3 separate regions of the Homo sapiens genome follow, and regions 1 and 2 are each linked to region 3. Evidence: fine-mapped expression QTL. A gene starts in region 3. Each other region holds a variant in brackets. All regions are shown on one strand. Distances are between the middles of the regions. Region 1 has its middle 13 kb from the start of LINC00242. Region 2 has its middle 53 kb from the start of LINC02519. Region 3 holds the start of ERMARD (ER membrane associated RNA degradation).

Region 1 (4,243 bases), 60 kb before region 3:
TCTCCAGACCCCAAATGCATAGAGATTGTCTGAAAGTATCAGACACATTCTTGGCAGTTCCCTTTCTTTCCTACACTGGCTTTTGTATCTGGCTTTAGATCAGAACAATCATTTGAATAAGGCCCTTCTGTCCTCAGCCTCCAGAAATACCTTTTTCTAAGGATCACCCGAAGCTACCTCTACCTTCCACCACTTGGCTAAGAATCAAATTTAGAAAACATTTCTCAAAGCTAATGTTTGTGAAGATGCTTCCAAATTTGTTGGGTAAAATATTCTATGAATGTTGCTGAATCTCTGTTTAAAATATCAGTATTCCTCCGTGGCCAAATGTCACCATTAACCATCAACATAACCCTATTAAATTATTAGAATGAGAACCTAGAAAGTGGGAAATAAAGGACAAATCACCAGGGAGAAGTTTATTCCAGAAATAGATTTGTGAGCCCAGAAAAAGACGTCATTGTTCAAGCCAAGAGCAGGGGAAGTCTTCTAAAGTGAGATAAAGATGGGGGCAGAACTAGGCCTTGCGAAGCCTGGTGGTTTTATAATGGGATTGGTTGGTGGGGGGGAGTTATTCAAGAAAAGGAGTCCCTCCACGCACATTCGAAAGGAGAAGGGAGATGGAAGCAAATTACATACTTGAAAAATCGGGCAAAGCCACAGACATCACAGAATCCAAAATCAGTGTTTTCAGTCACCTGCCTGACACTGCCTCATTTCTCCAGCTCTTTTTCTACACTTTCTCACACCTTTGACTGCTTTTATGTGTGACAATTTTGATATATCATTTCTTTTTTTTTTTCAGATGGATTCTTGCTCTCTCGCCCAGGCTGGAGTGCAGTGGCACAATCTCGTCTCACTGCAACTTCCGCCTCCCAGGTTCAAGTGAGTCTCCTGCCTCAGCCTCCCGAGTAGCTGGAATTACAGGCAAAAGCCACCATGCCCAGCTAATTTTTGTATTTTTAGTGGAGACGGGATTTCACCATGTTGGCCAGGCTGGTCTCAAACTCCTGACCTCAAGTGATCCGCCCGCCTCAGCCTCCCAAAGTGCTGGGATTACAGGCGTGAGCCAATGCACCCTGCTGATATATCATTTTCTATTAAGAGAAGAGAAAGCTAATTCAGCTTTTCCTCTAATAAGTTTTACATAAATCTGTTTTTATCGTATAGGTATCTCAAACCCATTTCCTGCAGTTTCATATTTTGTTATTGAACTTCTACATTTTTACAGGTGAGAGCATTCCTGGAAGGATTCCCGCATCGGGACACTGGCAGTAACTTCTCCACGCACAGAGGCGAGGCAACCCCACCGGCATCCTGACTAAACCCAGGTTTGTCCCTGGCTCCGTGGGCTGTAGCTGGACACCAGCTGCGGCCGCCACACTGAACAGCCAGCACGATGCCGTCGGGGTGCGGATGGAAAGAGAAATCCCACCTGCTGGGGCCTGGAGCCTCAGAAAGTCGCCCTCAGAAAGGTAGGTGCTGACATCGAGGCCAGCTAGCCTTGTGGTAATGGCCTGGGCTGGGCCACTGATTTAGGCGGTGAGGCGGCTGGCAGAGGACAGGAGCAACGGGGACCTTGGAGTGTCCACCCCTGGGGACCTGTGGAGGCGAGAGTTTGAAAAGGTTTGATTTGCCCATGAAATGCACAGGGGCACAGGGGAAAGTTGAGGGGTCCCGAGCCCACCCTGACTTGGGGATCAATGTTGCGTCGGGGTGGGAAGGTTGAGCGTGGCAAAGGCACACCCATGGAACGGCCCAGGAAGAAGGGGAGCCACTCATCAGGGCACAGCACAGGCTCGAGTTCTGCCTGCAGTGAAGGAAAACAAGACCCACTTGGCTGGGGATGGGGAACAATAGAGGCAGCAGATGGGGGTGCCCAGTGAAGCCACAGCCCATCCACAGCACATAGTGGGTTGGAGAGGGAGGAAGGGAGTCGGCTTTGAGTATGGACGGAATGGTCAGGGAGAAGGAAGTGAGGCTGTTCCCCTTGCAGGTCCTGTCCTAGCCAGAGGCCACTCAGGGACAGCTCTGTGCAGTCTCTTCCACCCTGAGGCAGCTCTTGCCCACGATCTGCGATGACAGGCCCGGCACAGCCTCATGCC[G/A]CCAGGCAGAAACGGGGACCCTACGTGGCAGGGAAGGCATTGAGGCCTTGGTGGACAGTGGGCTCGGCCAGGTCACTCCTCAGAGGCCAGCCCCAACCTCCCCTTCTGTGCTGAAGGCAGCTTCACAGCAGGCAGGCTGGGGTCCACATCAGTATAGAAACCACTCTTGCAGCTGGGTAGAGGACCCACAGGCAGAAACAGGCGGCCTCTGATCAGATTTGGTTGTCCCCGGTGGCACTAAAGGGGGATGAGGGGTGGCAGAGAAACCAGATCATATTTTGGCATTTGGGGTCTTCTCCAGCCCCACAGCTCAGGCTGGCCCAACATTGCTCCTCACATAAATACCAGAGCAGGATACCTGCCTTTCCCCGTCTGAGCCTAAGATTTCATTCATCTGGTCTTGACAAATCCCATTGTCAGAGGGCCAACGCTAAGTCAGCTGGCAAAGCTCTGTGAGAACGCCCCCAAAGCCGGTGAAAGGGTCCTGTCCAGAGGCACAAAGCCCACCCTCACCCCAGCCCACCTCTAATAGCACCGCATGCCAGGGACGGCCCAGGACAATGCCACCTCTTCCCCCAAGTTCCCTGGACCCTAACTACAGGCCTCGTGCTATTAAGATTAAGACACTAATCCATGCTTCATCTCCGGTCCTTTGAGGCCATTTTTAAAGGTAATTCAGTGCTACCCATTTGAGGACTTGAGACAAAACCTTGGGCAGGAATGACCTTTGATTCCCATCCAGGCTCTGACTAAGGCCTCAACAGGTGAAGCCTTTAAAGTTAGCCTTTTTCATTCTGTCCTGACAATGCTGATTGATAACACAGAGCTAATCTCCTGCTTTTGTTCCCAGGGGGCAAAGGTTTGAGCTGCCCCTTTTGAATCTGGGTCGTTTAACTATCCAGCGAGTGAATCATAACGCGACCTGAGACCCTGGGATTAATTCCCTGCAGGATATGCTTTCCCGGGATCCCAGAGGCCAGGGCCTCTCCTTGGCTGAACACAAACTGGGGGAAACCACGCCTAGAATCTGTGTCTGGTGCTCCACCCGCGGGAAGATCAGCATCAGAGAGTCTCATTATCCACAGGGCTCACGCCAGCTGATCTGCACGTGCAAGGCCTGGGGAAACCCCGGTGTCCTCCCAAGCCTTTGACCAGTGAAAGCCTCTCTCATGTCTGGTTCAGCTGCAGCAACTGCCCAGCGGCCTCTAACAGCCCCCAGAAGTACAGGTGTGCAGCCTGCCCACCGAGGCCACTCCCCTGAGCCCTGTGTCAACGAGGCTGCTCCCCCAAGCCCTGCCCACCGAGGCCACTCCCCTGAGCCCTGCATCATGGGCTCAGTAACTTCCTGCTGCTTCCTACCTGGGCTTTCCGTCCAGTTGTTCCCTTAACCCATCCTAAGCTCAGCTTCCCTAGGCAGAGCCGGAGAGTAACACAGGCCAGCAGAGATAGAAAAAAGAGATAACACTCAGAATAGTTAACAACGTTTGCTCCAACAACACAGGCTCCACAACCCTCCCCAGGTCAGGGTGAACAGCTAAGCCTCAGCACTGGAGAAGTCTTCAAATTGTACAGTTGAACTTAGCTTTTCAAACTTTTTAGAGCATTTCAAGCTTGAACTTCAATTGTATTATTTCAAGATTCAACTAGGGCATAAAATACTGAAGTTTATTTCTGGAAACATAAGTAGTTACATTTACATTATGTGTAGCATGCTGTCTTTCCAAACGTCACCCAACTCCACACACCGAACTCAGAGCAGAGTCTCCTCGGAGAGTGGGGGCATTGGCTTGAGGAAAAGGATGGAAGCGTTTCAATGTATATGTGATAGATAGAAAAAAGAGATAACACTCAGAATAGTTAACAACCTTTGCTCCAACAACACAGGCTCCACAACCCTCCCCAGGCCAGGGTGAACAGCCTTGTGTATTTCAGAAAATAAAGAAGTGTGGAAAAATACTGTGTTTGGGATTTAGGTGGTGAGTACCTAGAGGTTCTATGTTGTTCTCTGTACTATTCTGTGAGTTCTAACCAAGAATAAATAAATAACAAATTACTGTTATGTATTGACAGCAGGGGCTGTCACTGCTGGGGTCTCAGTGCCAGGGGTGTCAGTGCTGCGGACGTCAATGTTGGGGTGT
Region 2 (4,243 bases), 310 kb after region 3:
TTCACTCAGACATAGGTAATTCTTTCTTTAAATGCTCATCACATTGTCTTTTGGAATGTGGTCTCCTCTCATTGCCATTGGTAGTCTGTGACTGTTGGCTTTGCAGAATTGTATCAGTTATTAGAGTTTTTTGGTTGCAAGCCACAGAAAATAACTGTGGCATGCTTAATAGCATTGGGAATGTGTGGGGGTGGTGGTGGCCTGCAGAATCCCCAGGCAGCAGGAGGAGGTGTGGGCTCAGGTACAGGCTCAGTCGTCCTGCATCCGTCAGGACAGGACAACTCCAAGGCCAGGTGGCCAGATATGCTCTCCACTGAGCTTCCCACCTATTCTCACTCCAGACTCCAAGCTGTGGTCCCACTCGGTTATGTGCCCACTCCTGGGCCAGGGAAAGGCAGGAGACCACAGGGGACACAGCCAGAGCCACCACTACTACCTCATGAGAAGACAAATTCTTGAAGGGGAGTCAAGATATTTCTGGAAAAAAGAATGATTGTTTGTGGAGGGTGAAAACATGATACAATATTTTCCTAAAATTAGAAGATCTTAAGGAAATAAGGAGATAAAAATATAAAGTTTTACCTTTTACCTTTCACCTGTAAAAGAAAATACAAAACAAACATGAAAAGGGAGGTTCCATATCTCTCCTGATTCTAGATGCTGGGTGTCTATTTTATAAGAATTCTTTCAGACATAAAACATTAACAGGCATGTGTAAATATGGTTTATTGTTTCCAGTAATCTTGGCAGTTACTTGAGTCTAAATTATTTGCCTCAGGAGAGCATATTGTGAGGGCAATAAAGGGAGCCTTTTGAATTCTATTGATAAAGATGTGATTAACACCATTAAGAAGGGAGGAAAAGACTTTCAGTTCCAAACACAACACTGAGAAAACAGAGATGAGGATCCATTTAATTCTTGCTGTCTGAGTGTTTATAGCAGACGAACCTGGCCCATGGGGCAGGGCATGGCTGAACTTTTCAATTCTGGGATGACTTTTCTTATAATTGCCAATGGCCATCACAAGTCAGGGGAAATATTTTATTTTTTTGGCTGAATATCCCAGTTATGTATATAGATAAACATAAAAATAGAACCTATGTGATGGTTTTCCCAAAGCCGTCCTCTTTTTTAAAAACATTTTGCTTCTGAGGTGGCATATGAGTATTGTCAAAGTCAAATAAAAATATATACATGAATCTCTAAATAAAGTGTTTTATTTTAGAGAACAGACTTCAGCTTGAAGCATACACACAGACTAGGTGGTCTTCAGTATGTCCAAAGAAGAAAGAAGATTAAGGGTCTTCTTAGAAAGAAAAATGTTATGCATTGTTGTGAAAGAAAATTCATTGGCACTAGCAAGGTTTTAGGGAGCTGGCAAGCTCGGATTGGTGAGTGACAAGAGTGGGTAACACTAGTCTTGGAGTCACAGGAGTTTGTTTCAGCATCTCCTGCGTAAAAATGGCCTTAAGGTTGCAGCAAGTGACCTGGCAGCTGGCTGGTGAGATTGTCGCTGGGTAACTGACATGGCAGCTGGTTGATAGTGTCCCTGGGCAAGTGACTTGGCAGCTGGCTGGTGAGATTGTCCCTGGGCAAGTGACCTGTGCCTCGGTGCTTCCCACCTGCCGCTGGTCTGACTCTAATCTACTTAGGTGGACAAGTTAACTTCAGTTCACATCATTAATTCTCACATTTCCCCCTTTTGATCAAGATCTTTTTCTGAAAATGTTACTGATCAACTGTCTTGAAATTAGGTTTAATTGTCTTTTGGTGCTTAGTGGACCTGTCTTGGTGGTCTCTGGTCCCCCATCGGGGGAAGTAAGGTAGTCAACATCAGGGACCCAGACCGCATTTGAGTAACAAAGGTGCCAGAAAGAAAAACAGAATGAAACAACCAAAACCTTTCTTAGGGCAGGTTTGCCTGGAGTTTAGCATCAAGTTCTACCTTATTAGTCTCTTAGGCATTGTCAATAATCTCAAAGTATTTGGCTAACATCATCCTGTTGAGATAACTGATTTTTACAAAGATTAGACAAAACACAAGAACAGAGCTTAAATATCAAGAGCAAAATACAAGAAAAAAAA[AC/C]CCAGCAACAATATAATAAATTTAATTTGTACAAAGGTTTTTAACCAAGAGCTCATGCCTAAGGGCAACCAACTCAGCAGATGAAAAAGCCATAGAGGAAGTGGGAAGACTTGTTGTAGCCATGGACTAGCATTTCATGATTAAGATGAATTAAAGCAGAGTGCCAGCTCTGTAGAAAGGACCATTAGTACAATTAGAACAAAAAGTTGTCTTGGGGGTATTGCCAAAATTACCCAACAGGTGGACTTAAGAATTGCTTAAGTCAGGTTTTGTTATGTTATTCATATCGGGTATGATTCTAAACTTTTAATTATGAGCTCATTGTAATTATTATTACAATAATAAATAGATTTTCACTTAAGTAATCTATTATTTAAGTGAAAAAGATAGGCATTAAGAGGGGCAACGGTCTTATTAGAACATGGAGTCTTGGTTTAGTGCTCTTGGGAAAAGTTGCCTACAGCATGAAGTTGGCAGTTTCACAGTTTGAATGTCTCCCATTATGTCACTGGGTGGTTTGGTGAACTCTGTGTAGCCCACACACTAGGCGTGAGGCTTGTCCCCTGAAATTTATTTAAACTAAAACTAAAAACTAAATTTAAACTGTAATTTGTTTATAGGGCGTTAGGAAATAACTATTTCTCTTCTTAGTAATTCTGTGAGAGAAAAATTGAATTACAGGAACTTAGGAGAGTTTAGTATCCTGTCCAGCCTACAGGTAGATAATAAAAACTCAAAAACAATGCATAGGGTTACAGTCTAAAAACAATATACTATAGACAGCCCAATTTTTACAAAAGATCATTAGAGTAACACTAATTTGTTTGTAACATAAATTCAGATTTATTAGATTTGGCCTGATTGTTTATATTAGTATAGCAAGCATAATGATTGAATCTCAGATTGGACCTTTGTTAAAAATATTTTGAAGCTAGGAAGCCAAATCAAGGCAGGCTTCAGATTTTATCTTCAGTATGTATGAGTATAAACAATGTAAAATATGATATATTAATTTTAAATGTGATATATTAAATAATTATATTACCAATATAATAATATTGGTAATATAACTACCAATATAATAATATTGGTAATATAACTACCAATATAATATTGGTAATATAATTAACGATTATAATTGCATCCTATTAAAAACCATACTGTCATAACATAAAAAACTCATGAATAGTTTTCAAGTTTTGAAGGGATCAAGTAGAAAAGTAAATGTTTTCACCTTTGTTTATTAAAGTGCACTTTACCAAATTGCTGTAAGCTATAGGCAGCTCAAGAAAGAAAGTTTTCTTAAATATGGAAAACAAAATATTTAAATGAATAACCAATAATGTTTCAAATAAAAGTCATAAAAATCATAATTTTTATCAGTTATTCAATCTCAGGCAATTAAATTTTGTTCTTCATTATCTTGGTTAGCAGTTTTATGAACCTGTTAGCATTTTAGAAATTTTTATTTAGTCCATTGATCTTAAAGTTACTAGACATCTGTACTGAGGAGTACTTGCTAGAATCTTTTTTATGAATCTTGTTGCAGATGCCACTAGATAAGAATCAGCACTGTAGATGACCAAAAAATTAGAACAGTCACAGTTATAATGTGATAAAAGTTCAGCAATTGATTAAGAAATTTAGTTATTTCTATTGTGTATGGCATTTTAAGATAACAACCAAAATCATTACTGATAGCATCACAGTAAGAACCATCAGACCTTTATAAATTTTATAAATGTTAAAGCATTCACATCAATAATGCATCCATCTAAATATAATTTTAGTAAGAGCTAGTGTCACTTTATTATTTGACAGTGCCTTTATACAACCCATCGAATAAGCATCATGGGAGATGCATCGTTTGATGTTTTTTTGGGGCCCAACTGAAAAATCCCAAAGTCAATTTAAGCTTAAAAGTACTTAAATTAGAATTTGATTTTGGGGAAGTTTGTTAAAGATGTTAAAAAAACTTAAAACATTTAATTAAAATATAATCAGATGTCATTGTGAGATAATTATTTAATCAGAGTGATTATTAAAAGACTTCAAAAGCAAATATAAAAAGTTACATAGTTCAGAGGGAAAAAACTTAGACCTGTACTAGAGATGACCTAGTTTTTCTAAGTAGTAAAAAACTAATAAAGACAGCA
Region 3 (4,243 bases):
AAATAGAGTATTATATATTTCAGACACATCTCTTAAGAACTGAATGCACTCAGGTATAGTTGCTGTTAACATGCTTTCTGGATATCGTGAGAGCTGTATGATTAAAACATAGTGATTAAATATTAAAGATAATTTACATAAATGTTCTCAAATATGATAAAGGCTTAAAGACCTAAAATTATCAATCATAATATTTGCAAACTGCTCTGTCTATGGGGTAGCCATTGTTTATTCCTTTACTTTCTTAATAAACTTGCCTTTCACTTAAAAAAAAAAAAGAAAAAATACAAGTTCACGGAAGCTGAATGTGTTTTACGACCAGAGCATTATTGCTCTCAGCATTCCTTCACTATCCCAGAGTTATCAAAATAAGCAATTTTTTTAAATGGGGAATGGGAGAGCAGAAACCAAGTATAACGAACAAGAAGGAAAAAGAACCCCACGTACCTCTGACTACCTAAACGGTGTTGAAGAAAACCACAATGTCATCCCAAAACATGCCTCTTCGATATAAAAACAACAACAAATTTGAGCTGAAGACAAGAGGCAGCAAATGAAGGAAAAGCTCTCTCTATCCTCCCCCTCTTCCGCCCAAAGACAGGATATAAATTCTTTACTGGGGATAACTTTAGACTTACCAGACCAGTTAAGGTACCAGGGGAATCTGCAAACAATTCTTACTCCATTAGTTTCCGAATATGTATCTACCTTCCCAATTTCCTGCCCTTTGAAGCCTAAAACTGCTCTCCTGTGTCCTGTCACTTCTCTGCAAATCTACAGTTCTTTGTTGAAGATGGTATACAAATGTAGTTCTAAGCCACCATTTCAAGTTACTTCTCATTAAGGTTTATCCCTTGTGATGTGTACTCTGTCCAAGAATAAACTTTTTTCTTGTTATCCTTTCATTTGTTAAAGGGGTCACTCCGAACTAAGATGGGCAGAGGTAAAGTTTAGCCTTCCCTGCCATGTAAAAAGTAGCAAACCGTACTGGTTTTCCATGGAGAATTAAATACAATCGAAATCCTCACAATTACCCCACATGACACTAAGACCATCGTATAAACCTGCAAAGAAGTCAAATTCAGGATCTAAAGCGGAACCGAAGCTCTTTATTTTGGTGTGTTGAGTTAAGGGGGGGCTGTGTTGTGACAGTCATAATTAGCTCTGGGCAGCTTCCTAATGTGGAAACTGCTATCAGTTGCCCTGTTTGCTCCTCCTGCACCCAGAAGTTGCACTTTCCACTCTCAGCCCTGGTTTTCGAACAATCCCAGCAGGCCCTAACAATTAAGTCATCACTAAAGAAATCTACATCAACTATTTGTTGATTGGCGATTGTCACTCGCATCCTCCATGTGGCTCTATGGGGCTGGAACTCTGCAGACTACACTGGGCCGGTGCTTTGGAGCTGGACTTAAATTTGAATCATTCCTCAGCCTCTGACTACCTCTTGCCTTGGAAAAGTTACTTTATCGGAATCTCAGTTCTAAGTGAAATAAAACGGTGCCAGGCTGCACCTGGTAGGGCTACAGTAATCAGATAACACATGAAAAGCATCTAGCACATAGTACTCAAAAATGGTAGTTATCGTTATCATCATTTTGGAGACGGGGTCTCGCCGTCGCCCAGACAGGGGTGCAGTGGCGCGATCTCGGCTCACTGCAGCCTCCACCTCCTGGGCTAAAGCGATCCTTCCACCTCAGCCTACGGAGTAGATGGGACCACAGGCCCCACCACGCCCGGCGATGAACACAAATTTACTGTCCGAGTGTGGACCCTACAGGCAGCGACTAGGAAACTGCGCTTCTAGGAACGAGCCACGGTCAGGTGAGAGCCCGACCTGCGGCTTTCCGCCCCCGCGCCACCGCGCACAGCCCTCCCTGACCGTCCGCCGCGTTCCAGCTCAGGGCCAGGAGGCGACGGAGAAACCGAGCCTGGCCCAGGGAGGCCGGCAGGGCCCGCCAGGCGTCTTGCAGGGCCGAGCGTCCGATACCGCCACAGAGGCCAGGGCCGCGACGTCGCCAGCGCCCTCCAGCGCGGGACCGCCGGCCACCGCAGGCGCGTGCTCGCTCGCCCACTCCGCGTAGCCGAGCACCACCCAGCCTGGCGCCGACTCCCTGCCTAGCTCGGGATCGAACCGGGCCCTACACCCGCCCTACCTCCATAACTTCCGGTGCCCCGCTGCGGCGCGCGTGAATGACGCAGGCGCCTGCGCGCCCCTCCTCCAGGCGCTTTGGAGCCCTGGCGGGCACTTCCTACCGTACGAGGCGCAGGTGGGAGACTTCCGCCCTCGCGGGACTGGCTAGGGCGTTTGACCGCCGGCGGTGAAGGGGAGGCGGTGGGCGTCTTGGAGAACAGAGCGAGATGGAGAAGCGAGGCCGAGGCGTGAAGTCGAGCCCCATCCAGACCCCGAACCAGACCCCTCAGCAGGCTCCGGTGACGCCTAGGAAAGAAAGGAGGCCTAGCATGTTCGAGAAGGAGGCAGTGAGTGCGGAGACTGCTAGGGGCCCGAGACGGCTATGTCCGACCGTTTAAGTGAAATCGCTCCCCAGTGGGCCCCGCTCCCGTCACCACCCCCAGAGCCAAGGAGGCAGCATCTCCCTTTTGTGTTTCTTTTTTCCCCAGATGCGAAATTGAAGCCTGAGACTGAGTTGGGCAGTCCCCTTTGGACTTGAGTGCTAAAGTTTTCTTGTTTTTTAATTAGGGCCATAGAACCCTACATAAGTCGATTGGAAGGGTGGTTACAAGATCTTCTTTTCAAATTTACTCAGCTTGCGGATTTCCTGAGAGTACTCTGAGTATTATTGCTTTGTACTAAAACACAGTATGTTAGTGTATTTAGTGCCATTATAAGCAGTTTTGCTAGCGAAAAATGAGTGTGTTGTATTAAAAAAATAATTTGATAAACCAGGCAGAATAGTGCCATGTTTTGGGTTTTTAAAACATCAGCAGTCTGGATATTTGAAGAATGTACAGGAGAAAAAAACTTAAGTTGAAAATACCCTGTCCAAAACTTACTGATATTGATGGAAAGGGTCATTATTCAGTTTTATTGGTGGTATAACAGGTATTTCTATATGATTAGGCTTTGAAAACCGTTAATGTATTAAAGACTCTATATTTTATTGATACTTTAACAGAAAATTAGTTTGCCCAAGGATACAAAGCTGTAATGATAGAGCTGGGACCAGAACCTGTATGCTAGTACTCGGTCCAATTGGCCTATACTGGTTTCTCTTCGTACTTACTTCGTGGACCTATAATAGGATGAAGATAGAGATGACAGGCAAAACAATTTTTTGAAGACCCTAAAACATTTTAAGATTACTCTTAAAAAGAGAATTCTCAAAATAATGGCGAAATTTCAGGTTCTTGTTTCCCTGGTGTCTACATTTTACAGAGGAAAGAACGAACTAAATAAAGGAGGAAAAGCAAACAGGCCAAGTTTACACAGCTAAGAAAAAGAGCAGAGCAGGGCTAGAAACCTAAATCAGTTGGACTTAAAACTTCACACTCCCAAACACTATGCTGTATTTCTTGGCAATGAGTCTGAGTAACAGGTCACCAACAGTAAAGAAAAATTTCTATATATTGAGGCAGACAAGGGTGGCTTTTATAAACTTACTGCCTATCTGAGGTCTGAAGTGGTCTTTAAAATTCAATGAGCCTGAACTCAAAATGAGGAGACACATAGGTGCACCTGGTATATAGGTTAAAATCTGGGAGTGAGGGGACATGGACCAAAGTAATTATTAGTATTTGATATGGATGTGATCAATTATAGCTATCTTTAAAGTTGATTCTTTTAGAGGTGAGAAATTTGAATAGAACAATAATTGGGAAGAAATTGAGAAAGGACTCTACAAATGCTCACTAAATGTACCTGAGGAAACTGTTCACTTAGTTATTTCTAATTTAAGGTAGCTGTTAATTTCCCTATTTTGGAGCATAGGAAAATTTAAGACATACTGTTTCATCAATATGACCATCTCTTGATTTTATCTGTCTTGCCTCCATTTCTTTTTTTCTAGTGGTAGCACCTCAGTTAACTTTTAGAGAATTAACTCATCTGCAATTGTATAGAGCTTTGGTGAGATTGTCAGCTACTTCCCTTAACTTTTTAATAAGGATGAGACCCAAACTAAGCTAATTAGATGAATTCTTTGAAATAATGCAAAGAAAATGATTGAGGTTTATTCACATTGAAGATGAGAAGCTAAAGTGTTCCCTGTGTCTTTCTGAATCT

The links. PIP is the estimated chance that this variant, and not a neighbour inherited with it, causes the effect. A credible set is the group of variants that fine-mapping cannot tell apart.
Region 1: its variant is the best candidate, but not a certain one, in a credible set for the expression of ERMARD in fibroblasts (GTEx, PIP 0.51).
Region 2: its variant is the best candidate, but not a certain one, in a credible set for the expression of ERMARD in whole blood (INTERVAL, PIP 0.85).

The regions. Positions count from the first base shown.
Region 1 is chr6:169,809,616-169,813,858 of GRCh38, reverse strand. No RefSeq gene overlaps it. Among named protein-coding and RNA genes, the nearest start is that of LINC00242, 13 kb to the right of the region's middle. The variant G/A (reference allele first, on the strand shown) is at 2,106.
Region 2 is chr6:169,438,822-169,443,064 of GRCh38, reverse strand. It overlaps a transcript of WDR27 not described here. Among named protein-coding and RNA genes, the nearest start is that of LINC02519, 53 kb to the right of the region's middle. The variant AC/C (reference allele first, on the strand shown) is at 2,087.
Region 3 is chr6:169,749,577-169,753,819 of GRCh38, reverse strand. ERMARD (ER membrane associated RNA degradation) reads right to left here and starts at 2,198. Exons shown (of 18, transcript NM_018341.3): 1 at 2,157-2,198. The coding sequence starts at 2,162. DYNLT2 (dynein light chain Tctex-type 2) reads left to right here and starts at 2,248. Exons shown (of 4, transcript NM_174910.3): 1 at 2,248-2,481. The coding sequence starts at 2,362.